Homo sapiens: one gene and its partners. The protein of the gene in region 3 purifies or fractionates together with the protein of the main gene of each other region. This does not show direct contact. Each region holds a gene or a part of one and is shown on either strand. Other genes may lie near its edges.

Region 1 (3,500 bases), on a different chromosome or scaffold from region 3:
AAAAACTTAAAATGGGACAAAAACAACCTACAATCCTTTTCCTCATCCGCACTTCTGACTGTACATCAGGCCAGCCATGCAGAAATGAGCAAGAGGGTGCAAGACTACTCTTGGGGTACCAGGGAGAACAACCTAACTCCAAGGAGCCTCCTCAGACACCCTCCACTTCTGGGCCATTCCTTAGCAACAGAAGCAGAAGATGAAACCACTTTCCATAACTGCAGCTTGGAAGTCTCTTTTCTGAAAACTCTCCCTGACAGAGTATCTGGGATATGTTTTGGAGAATAGCTCTTAGGGCTGCATTACACCGACGATCGGCAAATGGTCAAACATTGAAAGATGATTCATTGCCATTTAAAGGAGCCTTACCTGCATTCCGTATCCTCTCTTTGTACTGCTGATCTAGTTTTTTCATTCTCTTCTGATATTCCTGTAATGTACCTGATTTTGAACATTTGAAAAATAAAATTATTGTGAATATAAATCTGCTCTACATTTTGCTTCCTAAAATTATTATCTAGCATCAACACTGACTGTTTCAGTAACACCAAAGGAAGACACACCTCAGCAAAGTTAACTCTGGTTCTTAACCAAGGCACACAGCAGAAACCACTAGGGGCCCATTCAAAGTCTACCCAACCCAGTGGATCAAGGGTCTGTAGTGAGTGAGGGGGAGTGGAAAATTGCCAATATCTCCACACTATTCTGATCAGTTGCTGCAACAGTCTGAATCAACGGGCCTTCCTTTACTGGAAAAGGTTCATTCTCCTTCAGTAAGGTCTAGGTCAACGCTCTCCAGTAGAACCTTCTGCAATGGTGTGTTTTATATTTGCAATGTCCAACATGGCAGGCACTAACCATTTGTGGCTATTTTAGCACTTGAAATGTAGCTAGTGGAACCGAAGAACTAAATTATTAATTAAATTTAAACAGCCACATGTGGCTAGTGACAGCATTAAACAATTCAGGTATAGATTCTAACCAAATCGCTATTCATTTCATTGCTCTTCCCACAAAACAGTTAATTATGAGGGGCCCATCTTGTGGGGGGAAGTGTTTCCTGATTATAATGCCTGACCATGGGCTAGTCCAAGGGCGTGGATCACTCACCAGCAATAAAAGCACATAGTAGAAACAGCAGTATCAGGCTGGGCATGGTGGCTCATGCCTGTGATCCCAGCACTTTGAGAGGCTGAGGTGGGCGGATCACCTGAGTTCAGGAGTTCAAGACCAGCCTGGCCAATGTGGTGAAACCCCGTTTCTATTAAAAATACAAAAATTAGCCGGGCCTGGTGGCAGGCGTCTGTAATCCCAGCTACTCGGGAGGCTGACGCAGGAGAATCGCTTGAACCCAGGAGGTGAAGGTTGCAGTGAGCTGAGATCGCGCCACTGCCCTCCACCTGGGTGACAAAAGCGGAACTCAGCCTCGAAAAAAAAAAAAAGAAAAGCAAAAACAGTTTCACTGACAAGGGGACTCCACAATATGAAACCGAAGAGCTCACTGCCACAGCTAACTGTCCCCAGGACCTTGCAGTGTGCACACTGCTGTGCTAGACGCTCCTCATGCATAATCACATCTACTCTTACTTGCTTCATTTTGCAGATCAGAAAACAGATTAAACAAGAGAAACTGGCATGTCCAAGGTCACATTACTAGAAGCAGGGAAACTGGGATTCCAATCCCTCACAAAACTCCAGAGCCTGCACTCTTTTTTTTTTTTTTGAGACTGAGTCTCGCTTTGTCGCCCATGCTGGAGTGCAGTGGCACGATCTTGGCTCACTGCAAGTTCCGCCTCCAGGTTCACGCTATTCTCCTGCCTCAGCCTCCAGAGTAGCTGGGACTACAGGTGCCCACTACAACGCCCAGCTAATTTTTTGCATTTTTCAGTAGAGACGGGGTTTCACCATGTTAGCCAAGATTGTCTCGATCTCCTGACCTCGTGATCCACCCGCCTCGGCCTCGCAAAGTGCTGGGATTACAGGTGTGAGCCACCGCGCCTGGCCTCACAGCCTGCACTCTTAACTCTGATGCTGCACTGCCTTTAGCAGCTAGCAGCATTTGACAAAATACAATCTACTTTTAATGTAACAAGCAAAAAGGAGAAAACACAGTGTGAATAATCCACAAGGTCATTAACATTTGGTTTAGAAAAAACAGTAAAAACTTTATTCTTTGATAACAATGTCTCTCCTAAAAATCTCTAGCTTTAGGCACAGTGGCGTTCAATTCGTGCTCCATTGAAAGTCCCAAGTGAGATTTCATTTGAAGAAAGAATCTCACACATACTGGAAATAAATGTTTCAAAATCAAGGAGCTGGAAAATCACCACTTTACTGACAGCAAAAGATAGCAAAATGTACTGGATAGCTAAGATCAGCCAGACCGTGTTTTAAATAACTCCCACAGAGAAGTGAAATACACAGATTTCAAGGGTTTGTAATATTAAGAAGCATATTTAGAAATGCAGGATTCAATCACACACCAACCTTCTTGCAGTTGTTGCAACTGCCTCTTGAGAGAAGCCAGTTTGTCCTGATACATCCTATAAAAAAAAAAAAGTCACACTAACAGATAAAAACATTCAATACTCAATTCCAAAATAACCTACTCACAGAAATTAGCTGGGCTGTTATGGGAAGGTCATTAATGTCCTTCAGGGAAGAGAGGAAAGTAAAGTCTGCTTGCTGGCTTAAAATGCACCAGCAGCCACAGGGATCAGAAAGGAACAAGAAAGAACCCTGTGTTCCTCAATCTTATTCTAATTTTGTAGATTCTCCCATGTTATCCCATCTTTACAGAATCCGTCTAAAACTTGCAACGATAGCAGATTTTAATAAATGACAATTATAAACAGGCAAGCACACACACAATGTAGAAATGGCATTAAACACAACTCTTACATCAACTCTACAATTAGATTGTAAGTTACAGGAGAGTAAGATTATGCCTTCAGCATGTTTTTCTATGCAGATATGCTTAGCAGTGTAAGAACTAAGTCAATAAACCTTCATGTCATTTTTTAAAGCACTACTCTTTTAGGATCAGAGAAATAATAGTAATTCAGAAAGAAAAGTTAAAAGGCAGCATTTACTGGCAGCCCCAGCTGGATGGGAATACACAGCACACACGAAGCAAAAGCATTTGGCATGTTAGTTTTTTCCTCTCACACCTAATGGATTATAGGCAGTCATAACTTCAGCAAGTTGGTTTGAAGGTGGGTTCCACATATAAATCACATTTCAGCAAGTATTTTTGCTTCTACCTGAAAAACACCCTCAATTTAACAGTGATAAAAACAAGATTTGTGATCTGAAAGAACACTGTCCAACATATAACAAGCACAATAACCTTTTGGTATATGTGCTGCTGAAGTGAGCACATGGGCGTGATAACCTTTTTAGCGCTCAAATAAGGGCTGCAAATACAACCCAACCCTCTGTAAGGGGAGGAGAGTAGGCAGAATTTGAGACTCACACACATCTCACTCTTTCAGGGCAAA
Region 2 (3,500 bases), on a different chromosome or scaffold from region 3:
GGAGGCCGAGGCGAGTGGATCACCTGAGGTCAGGAGTTCAAGACCAGCCTGGCCAACATGGCAAAACCCCGTCTCTACTAAAAATACAAAAATTGGCCGGCACACTGTCACATGCCTGTAATTCTAGCTACTCGGGAGGCTGAGGCAGGAGAATCGCTTTGAACCCGGGAGGCAGAGGTTGCAGTCAGTGGAGATAGCCACCACTACACTCCAGCCTGGGCAACAGAGTGAGACTGTAAAAAAAAAAAAAAAAAAAAAAAAAAAACAGATGTGTCAGTACCAAAAATGACACTTGAGTGGGTATTTGAATTAAGTAGAGGGTTGATCTTTCCCAACATAGTACTATTTCAGGACGTTTATTGAAGGCATTGGTGGAGCTCTCTGTATGTGTTTTGCTCTGCAGGGAACTCAAAGTTGGCATTCCCGTCACGGATGAGAATGGGAACCGCTTGGGGGAGTCGGCGAACGCTGCGAAACAAGCCATCACGCAAGTTGTCGTGTCCAGGATTCTCATGGCAGCCCCTGGCATGGGTTAGCAGGACTTTGTCATTTATTCCATAAATACAGGTTGAACCAGCGTTCACGGATCCGTGAACCAGAAAACAAACACATATATCACACCTCTTAGTGGAAATTGCCTTCCACTGGGGGTGGCAGAAAATAAACAAGTAAATAAAGTATGTAGTATGTGCAGTGGTGATGAGGGCAAGGGGGCAATGGGGCTAGGGCGTGTGGGTAGGGCAGCCGGGGAAGAGCACTGGGTGGAGGTGTGGGAGTGAGCCAAGTGGGTATCGGTGATGAATATTCTGGCAGAGGGAACCACAGGCAGGAGTTTGCCTGGTGTGTTACAGGCATTACGGGTGCAGGTGCAGCTGGGGCACAGTGGGAGGGGTGGGGAGCAGTAGGAAGGGAGTCAGGAGGCCACAGACGGCAGAGCGTGGATGGCAGCCCTGGCGTTTCACACCTGGGTTTTAGTCTGAGAGGTAAGAAGCCAGGCAGGGTTTTGCATACAGGAGCAGCACAGTCTGACTTAGGTTTTATCTGTGTGACTCTGGGTGGTGGGTTGAGAATAGGCTGAAGGAGAATGAGAATATTCAGTGGAGGCTGTGCGGGGAGGCTGCCTCAGTAATCCAGGCAAGAGGCAGTGATGGGCTGGACCAGGGCCATACAGTGGGAATTTGACCAGAAGGAACTGATGGAGCAAATTGGAATGGTTAGAGCAGCTACTGATAAAATGTGTGCCAAGCAACTGCTCAGGTTTCCCTATAGGGACTGGGGTCAGAATGACCAAAAATAGAAAGTCTACATTGTATTTAGTTCTGCTGAGAATCTCTAGTCCACCCTAAGGCTGCTTAGAGCTACCTTCAGACCAGGGGCCTAAAGAAAGTTCTCAGACTGAGAAATCAGAGGGCCTGGCAGTTAGAGTGCTCTTCACAGAAAAAAAACAGAAATTAGTATGTTTAATTTTCATCATCTAAACTGAATGCAAACAGCGCTTGGCAATTAAAATGAAGCTCTCCAATGAAGTATACTTCATCAGCTGCTGTCAAGTCATCCATTGATACTGTTTTGCGGTTTTTAAATTCCTTTTGTCACTGTGACTGCTCATCAGCAGGCAAGGAAGAGCAGGCAACAAAAGTTGAAAAGTGCATGAAGGAAAACTTTGAGGAATATGATATTCACATTCCAGCAAATTGGGGGAAAACTGCTATTATCTGGTTTAACACAGGAGTGCCTTGGTGCCCTGCCTGAGGCTAATGTGTTCTGTAGGGGTGGCTGCACAGCCACAGTCCTGAAACATGGGAAAGCATCTCCTGAGTCCAGGGACCAGCACGTTTGTCACTAACCTAAAAGGAGGCTATGGAGCCCACCCCGGTGTTCCTACTGAGCCCTGATTTCCAGATTTGCTGAAATCGAGGTTGCGGCTCCAGCTTCTGCCCTGGGTTTGGTTTGTTGTTGTCGTCGTTGTTTTTGAGACAGGATATTGCCCTGTCCCTCAGGCTGGAGTGCAGTTGCTGTGATCATGGCTCACTGCAGCCTCAACTTCCCTGAGCTCAGGTGATCCTCCTACCTCAGCTTCCCCAGTAGCTGGGACTACAGGCGTGCGCCACCACACCCAGCTGATTTTTGTATATTTTGTAGAAACAGGGTTTTGGTATGTTGCCCAATTAGTCTAGAACTCCTGGGCTCAAATGATCCACCCACCCCGAATGCTAGGTATACAGTTGTGAACCACCATGTCCGGCCCTGGGTTTGCTTTTGATTGTGGTCTTTTCTGTTTTGAATTGCCTTACTCCTCTTAGAGTTCAGCCAGTCCAGACGGACAAATCCATTTCTAGTGATTTGGTTATTTTAAACACTATTTAGTCCCCAGAGAAGAAATACAATCTTTCTGTCCTAGTGCAATTTATAAGAGTAATTGACATATTGAAATAGTGGATATGACAGTTTAGCCTGATAAAAGTTGTCAGCAAATGAACGAATGCTGTCCACCGCATACCCAGTGTTTTACATGCAGTATTGTCTCCAATTTCCTCCATTTTATAGAAAAAGAAAACAGAAAGCTGAGGCTCAGAGAAGTTAGGTAACTTCTCCAGGGTCACCCAGCTAGCAAGTGGTCTAGCCCAGCGGTCCCAAACCTTTTTAGCACCAGGGACCCATTTCATGGAAGACAATTTTTTCATGGACCAGGGGTCAGGGGGATGGTTTCAGGATGATTCAAGCACGTTAAATGTATTGTGTACTTTAGTTCTATTATTATTACATTGTAACATATAATGAAATAATTAGACAAGTCACCATCATGTTGAATCAGTGGGAGCCCTGAGCTTGTTTTCCTGCAGCTAGACAGTCCCGTCTGGGGGTGATGGGAGACAGTGACAGATCATCAGGCACTAGATTCTCATAAGGAGCGGGCAACCTAGATCCCTTGTATGTGCAGTTCTCAATGGAGTTCAGGCTCCTGTGAGAATGTAATGCGGTCGCTGACCTGACAGGAGGCAGAGCTCAGGCGTAATGCAAGCAATGGGGAGCAGCTGTAAATACAGCTAAAGCTTCATTCACTTGCCCACTGCCCTCCTCCTGCTGGGCAGCCCTATTCCTAACAGGCCAGAGATCCATACCAGTCCATGGCCCAGGGGTTGGGGCCCCTGGTCTAGCCTGTACGGAAGCAGTTTCTGCCTGACTCCAAGGCAGGATTCTTTACACCATCCTCCCTGCCTTGTGCCCTTTGTTTTATTAATATAGGAAGAAAAAGTTCCTGATATTTTTATTTTTGTCTACTTAAACCTAAAAGTAAAGTTCTTTTCAAGATTATAAAACTTTCTGGCTGGCAGAGGATGTGATATTACTGTTCAAAAATTTAGAAAATCAGAACAGTTTTCAATCTAATGAATTCAAATGTAATAATTTAAAGAATTGCTACAAACTGTTTTTACTGTGACAGTGGAAATAGCCTAAAAGTGACAGAAGCTTTCTGTCAAATGGTTGAAAAAAAAAGT
Region 3 (3,500 bases):
AGATTCTCCTGCCTCAGCCTCCTGAGTAGCTGGGATTACAGGCGCCTGCCACCACGCCTGGCTAAATTTTTGTATTTTTAGTAGAGATGGGGTGTCACCATGTTGGCTAGGCTGGTTTCAAACTCCTGACCTCAAGTAATCTGCCCGCCTCATCCTCCCAAAGTGCTAGGATTACGGACATGAGCCACCATGCCCAGCCTCCACCTCAACTTCTAAGACATATTTAAGGCTAATATTTTTTCCTTTAAAACTGAACTTTGAGCTGTATTGGCTGGACATGCTCTGAGGGTCCTTCCAGAGCTAACATCTGTGGCTGCAGAATGGAAAGACCCTTTCCTTTCATGCTTGCTCACATGTGTGCACTTGCTCACAATAATCTAAATGATGGGAAACTATTGTTCATGCCAACATTTTTGAAAATGGGAAAAATAAGTAACAGATATTCAGATGTAATTCTTCTTCTAGACATTTTTTTAAAAGCCAGACTAGTATGAAAATTTATGCAAATTTGAATATAAAAAAGAAAAACAACATCTTTAAATTTTTTCTCTTTCATTCTGTGGAAATAATTTATTTTAAAACTTCATGATATTTATCTGTCCATTTAAAACTGTGTTAATAGCTTATAAAACAATGGGTATGGTATGGCTGGAGCCAGCTTCTGCAGGCCCTCTGCCATGCCAGGCCAGGTGCCACGCCTCCAGGTGCAAGACCATGGGGTGGTCCAAGGGTCCCAGGGGAGAGGCCTGGGCAATGAAGAAGTGGTGGCACCGGTGGAGGCGCTCAGGACAGCTGCTGTTTACCGACCAGTAAAGGTACATTTCACTGTTTGAACAACTGGTACGATGGTACGAGCGTGAACCACCTGAAGACCAGCTCTACACTCTGCAACTCAGTGTTAGAACAAAGAATGCTTTACAGAAAGGAAAGTTGGAAAATACTTACCAAGCTAGTAATTTCACTATGCAAGTCTTGATAGGCCATGGAATGTTTCTCTTCTGGGTCAAATGTTTCTGATACTGTCACTGAAATCTTCCCAGGGAATACCTTTCCTGAAAGTTAAGCAGAATCTTTCTGTACTATTTGATGAAAAGAGGGTCATTTCCATTTTGTTTTAAAACATAGATTATTTTTTAGAATTCCCAACATTATATAACGACACTACAGGAAATCTGGAAATATTTTAAAAGTTACCCATCATCCTGCCCAACCTAGCACAACCATTTTAATTTTGGTATATTTCTTTCCATTTACAGTTTACATTGTTGTAATTCCAAGTTTATGCCATATTTTTTTTCTTCTTATTATATAATAGGTATTTTCCAAATCGTTGCCTAGTCTTTTTTTTTTTTTTTTTTTTTGAGAGAGAGAGACAGATAGGGTCTTGCTCTATCACCCAGGCTGGAGTGCAGTGGCACAACTGGGTCACTGCAGGCTTGAACTCCTGGGCTCAAGTGATCCTCCTGCCTTGGCCTCCCAAAGTGCTGGGATTACAGGTGTGAGCTCCTATGCCTGGTCTCATAACCATCATTTTTAAAGGTTGCATAATATTCTGTGAAGTACATGTCCCCTTCCTTGATGTAATCATTTTTTGTTATTGGACTTAGTGCTTTTAATTATTTAAAAGGAAAAGAAAAAGTTGCAATGAACATCTTCACACACAAACTGTTCTTCTGTATTTGGGGTCACTTACTTAGAGTAAATCCCCAGGAGTGAGATTATTAGTGCTAAAAATATGAGCATTTGGGGGCCTTTTGGTATATCCCTAACCCCAGTGGGCAATGCAATGCATTCATTTCTTATAGAATTGGCTGCTCTGGAAAATGAAGATATTTCTCATTCATAAAACAGAAAAAAAAAAAAAACAGAACTCAGACAGTCAGCCCTCAGACCTTCACTGCACCCTGGTGATCTAATCAAAACATCATTATGCCACAAGTGTATAAATGTACTCCTGAAATCCATTTTTAGAGCTGAAGGGCTCTTATGTCTCTAAGAGGGGGATCTGATGTTATGGAGCAAACAAATCTTGTGACACAGAACTGAAGATCAGGCTCCCAGGGTTGCTGGACTGTGTGGTCTTTGATAGATCACCTTGTTCTGCCTCAGTGTCCCTAGGTAACAGCACTTTTCTCTACTTTGCTGGCCTTTGTTGCCTCTGCATTTTCTTTATCTCTCATATTTTGGAATCTCCTTTTGCCATCATTTTGAGTTTTCGATTCCACTTTTGGTGTGAGATACAGAGCTCAGCCATGGCTCATCCCTTGTAACTCACCTTTCTTACATGTAGAAGAGTTGTAGTAATACCCTTCTAAACACAGGCAAAAACTTGTATTATGCAGCTTAACACATAACGAATTATCTGCACAGGGATCATCTTGGCAAGGATTGCTGGGACCTTAGATGGAGTAGAAAGAGATTAGAAATCCAGAGAAATGACAATAAATAACAACTGGAAACGTATTTTTCCATCTTCATGCCTCCCCCCTGGGCCCTTTCCATTCCTTGCTTGTGTTACTCCACAGCACACTTTTGGAAGAGTTAAAAACAAATATTTGCTTGCTTAGGTCTCTAGAGAGTTTGTTTCTGAAATTCTAGAGCCAAGTATAATACTTGTCAATAGTAAAGATCAGAGATTAGTGTACAAGGGCTTGCCCAAAGAAAGAGAGATTGCAGTCTTCTGACTCCAAGGAGTCAGGAATCTTCAGATCTCAAAGTCCCTCCAGAACCTTGAAGCATGGTCCTCTAACACTAGGTGGGGCTCCCCAAAACATTCTAGATAAAACATCTTATTTTTAGAAAGGTATGAATAATTGTCATATAGGAAGAAACAGCCAAGAAGCTCCAAAAGAAACTAGATGTCACATTCTGTTAGGCATACCTAGGAGACATAGCCATAAAAACAGGAATGGGATAGTAAAGGAGAGAAATGTGGATTAACTCAGTGAAAATTCTAAGAGGCCATGAGAAGACATTCCAGCCTCTGGCTTTCTAAGTGGATCATCTGAATAAATGGTGAAAATAACACTGCAATGGGTTCTACACTGTGGGCTGAGACTCCCAGGCCAGGCAGGGTGTAGCATCTTTCTTTCTCTGGGGAACTGATGAGATCTGAGGAGGAGAGTTAGCTCAGTGGTCCAGTGGTGATCTGGGCTATGAGTTTTCTTCACTTCTGTCAAGTGGAATGATTCTGAGCTGTGATGTCAGAATAGCTTATGTGTTTGATAACCTTCAGAGCTGTCTTGAGAGTCTTACAAACCTATATGTAGAAACCACTGATTTCTTTAAAAGCTGTATGTAAGGTACAATGTGTATAACATGCTCTCTTTTGTGAATAAAAGAAGGGAAGGATTATACACAAGCAAATATTTGCTTATATTTGCATAGGTAATTTCAGGAGGGAGATACAAGGAATTGGGCACAGAAGTTGCCTCTGGGGAAGGAAACTGGGGGTCTGGGTCCTGGGGGTTTAGGATGAGAGGGAGATTTATTTTTTATTG
Region 4 (3,500 bases), on a different chromosome or scaffold from region 3:
ATTTTTTGTATTTTTAGTAGAGACAGGGTTTCACCATGTTAGCTAGGATGGTCTCGACCTCCTGACCTCATGATCCACCCACCTCGGCCTCCCAAAGTGCTGGGATTACAGGCGTGAGCCACCGCGCCTGGCCTTTTTCCTTAAACTTTTTAATCCATCCACAATTGATTTTGGTACATGGTATCAAGTAAGAATCTAACTTTATTTTTCACATGATTAGTTGCTCTAACGGGACTTATTGAACAGTCTAGCTTTTTCTGATTTGAAATGTCACCTTTTTTTTGAGACAGGGTCTGTCACCCAGGCTGGAATGCAGTGGTGCACCATGGCTCACTGCAGCCTCAACGTCCCAGGCTTAAGCGATCCTTCCACCCCCAGCCCCTCTAAATAGCTGGGACTACAGATGCGTGCCACCATGCCTGGCTAATTTTTGTATTTTTTGTATAGATGGGGTTTTGCCATGTTGCCCAGGCTGGTCTTGGAACTCCTGGGTTCAAGCAATCTGTCCACCTCAAACTTTCCAAAGTGCTGGGATTACAGGTGTGAGCAACCCCGCCCAGCTGAAATGTCACCTTTTTAATATGTTAAATCTCCTCAAGTGTTTGAGTCTATTTATATTCCACTCATTCAATAAGCAATACATACTTATAACCATCTACCAAATGTCCAGCACATTAACCAATCAGTTGATTAATCTGTTGATCTGGTGCTGAACTTGTGCAAAGTTATAAAGTACTCTAGCTTTTACTATCATTTTAAGTTTGGTAGAACTAGTCATGTTCCCTCTCCTCCCTTACCCTACCCTATACGACACTTCTTTAATATACTTTATTTGATCTTTTTCCAGGTAAATTCTAGAATCAACAGGTCAAGTTAAAAACAAAATAAAGGCCAGGCACAGTGGCTCACGCCTGTAATCCCAGAACTTTGGGAGGCTGAGATGGGCAGATCACGAGGTCAGGAGATCGAGACTGTCCTGGCTATGGTGAAACCCCGTCTCTACTAAAAATAAAAAAAATTAGCCAGGCGTGGTGGCAGGCGCCTGTAGTCCCAGCTACTCAGGAGGCTGAGGCAGGAGAATGGTATGAACTCGGGAGGTGGAGCTTGCAGTGAGCCTAGATTGCACCACTGCACTCCAGCCTGGGTGACAGAGCGAGATTCCATCTCAAAAAGAAAACAAAACAACAAAAAATAAAATTCTTGTTTGGATTCTGAAAAGGACTGCTGCACTGTATTTAAAAACTGATTCAAACAGATGAGACAATTTATAATACTAAAGTCTTCCTAGTCAGGAACATTTATTGTTTATATTGCTATATAATATTTTTCATAAAGATCCTGCACATTTCTGATTCATTTAGAGTTAAATCTTGCTATATTAAGTGAAAAGTAATTTTTATTCCAGATTTGAATCCATGTTGTCATTCTTATTGTAAGATTATATGTTCAGTGTATTTTAAGTATCTCTAATTATATAAATGTTAATGAAAGAAATCTAACACACAGTTCTTCACTTCTAAGTTTGGTGTGGTATAGTGGGAAACAAGTGGCCCAAAAGTGGTCTATGGTGTTGGCTCTGGGATGAGCTGGCTGTGCCTTTGAGGTAGTCATGCCACCCATCAGGGCTATTTCCCAATCTGTAAAATGAGATGATTAAAAATCCAGTTCCGATAACCTATGATTCTATGTTTCAAATGCCACTAGAAATTTATACCACTAGTAGTCACATCACTGCTGAATTCCTTTATCCTTAAAATTAACCAGTTCAAAGTTTGACAATACCAGTAAGACAATCAACTGAAGTAGTAGTCTCCAACCCTATAGTAGCTTGGAAAATCCCTCATAATATTATAAAATGATGGCAAGAACCACAGACATAGTAATTTCTTCAAAATACGTACAAAATTTTCTCTGAATACTTTTTAAATCTACAGGGAAAAAACAAAATCTTCTGAGAAAGCATCCTGTTCTCAGCAGAAGACAATACATTCTGAGAGGTGTCCCTACTCACCAAGTGCAGAATAGCAGCCAAAATCTTATACACTGTTTGGATCTCCTCAGGTTTGAAGCCAATGACTTTCATGGCATCAGCAACAACTCTGAATTCGGCAGCATCATTGATAGAAGACTGGGGATGAAAATGAAAAACTGAAGTTACAGATATTTCCTATGAGCATTAAAATTCAACAATTATAAAACTAAGTTATACCAAGGTTTTGCCTTCATAGTAAATCACTTGAGGGGATGGTGAGTCTCCAGAGAAAATAAAAATGATTTCACGAGTTGCAACATTATTCAGCACGTACAAAGCCCACTTGTGCGTGAAAGCCATCACCTAAAATAAGCACTGTGCCGTTTTCTGGAACCTTCAGTGAGGGAGCAAGTCCTGAGCTGGCTCAGACAAGCTGATCCCCCACTCCATGATCAGTGAAGGCAACAGCATGGATGTGAGATCACAAATGCAAGTGCTGAATGTGGGAGCCTCCAAGATACATGCTTGGCTACTGTTGTTTGTGGCTCTTTGTTCCACAATTGTCTTATTTAGGCTGGCAACAACACTTCACTCTCGTATAATCAGGCGGTTTATTTTCCAGGTGAGGCAAGGCGGGCCCTCAAAAGCAAAACAGCCAGCCTCAGTCATTTAGTAAGCTATTAAATAGTCTGGGACTATAACTTCATTCTTTCACTCACTTGATACGCATTTCACAAGTCAGCTCTACTAACTGGTACAGGCAGCTCAAAGATGAATCGCCTGCCCTTTTAGAGCTGTGGCCATCACATTGGAAATACAAGTGCGTAAACAGAAATTCGCAATAAAGCAATAGTAACTGCTTATATTAGTTTTACCACAGCAGCAGCCGCAGAGGCTTGACCAATTCTTTCCTCAGTAAGTTTCTCCTCTTGTTTGGATACAGAGACCTGGCCTGATGCTCACTTGTTGAGGAAGGGCCCTGGAAGGGGACCTCTCTGCCTGGTGAGTACAAGTTCCTCTAGTGTCCAGGAGACAACCAGGCCAGCCCCTCCTCCTCCTAGGTTTTTGTTTTTACCTTGGACAAGATACTTAACCTCATTGAACCTCAACTTCCTCACAAATAAAATGGGCATAATAACATATATCTTACAGGGTGGTTGTCAGAATTGAATGAAAATTTATATAAAGCACCTCTCTAGCACCAGCATACAAAAAAAAACCACTCAGCAGTATCAGATATTACTATTATTATAAACTGCAACCATGTTGAAGTTGGAAAGTAACTGGATAAAATCTAAATGTCCTACTGTGGGGAACTGTTGGCTGCTTACCTAACAGCCATCCTCTACCCTCATTTCTTTCTTGCCAATCGAACCCTGATTTGTTTACTCCTCTCTAAGTGTGCATGTCCTTTGTGACTGGCATCTACCTAGCCTCAAGAGGTAAATCTTCACTGGTCTAAACTCATCAGAGTGATCTTATTTCCCTTACTAAATGACTGGTTAGCCACAGGCATGGGATGCCATTC

The links.
Region 1: the proteins of MUC13 (region 3) and SUDS3 purify together in Homo sapiens (affinity purification with mass spectrometry, with the first as the bait; one study listed by BioGRID). This does not show direct contact.
Region 2: the proteins of MUC13 (region 3) and SFXN1 purify together in Homo sapiens (affinity purification with mass spectrometry, with the first as the bait; one study listed by BioGRID). This does not show direct contact.
Region 4: the proteins of MUC13 (region 3) and MYO1D purify together in Homo sapiens (affinity purification with mass spectrometry, with the first as the bait; one study listed by BioGRID). This does not show direct contact.

Annotation. Positions count from the first base shown.
Region 1 is NC_000012.12:118,383,055-118,386,554, reverse strand, and holds part of SUDS3 (sin3 histone deacetylase corepressor complex component SDS3), read right to left. Parts: exon of another isoform or gene 3,171-3,500; intron 2,544-3,170; coding exon 2,488-2,543; intron 442-2,487; coding exon 370-441; intron 1-369.
Region 2 is NC_000005.10:175,513,060-175,516,559, forward strand, and holds part of SFXN1 (sideroflexin-1), read left to right. Parts: intron 1-403; coding exon 404-531; coding exon of another isoform or gene 532-536; exon of another isoform or gene 537-677; intron 678-3,500. UniProt on the Homo sapiens protein: Amino acid transporter importing serine, an essential substrate of the mitochondrial branch of the one-carbon pathway, into mitochondria.
Region 3 is NC_000003.12:124,921,252-124,924,751, forward strand, and holds part of MUC13 (mucin-13 precursor), read right to left. Parts: intron 2,399-3,500; coding exon 2,276-2,398; intron 1,053-2,275; coding exon 946-1,052; intron 1-945. UniProt on the Homo sapiens protein: Epithelial and hemopoietic transmembrane mucin that may play a role in cell signaling.
Region 4 is NC_000017.11:32,765,625-32,769,124, forward strand, and holds part of MYO1D (unconventional myosin-Id), read right to left. Parts: intron 2,129-3,500; coding exon 2,012-2,128; intron 1-2,011. UniProt on the Homo sapiens protein: Unconventional myosin that functions as actin-based motor protein with ATPase activity. Plays a role in endosomal protein trafficking, and especially in the transfer of cargo proteins from early to recycling endosomes.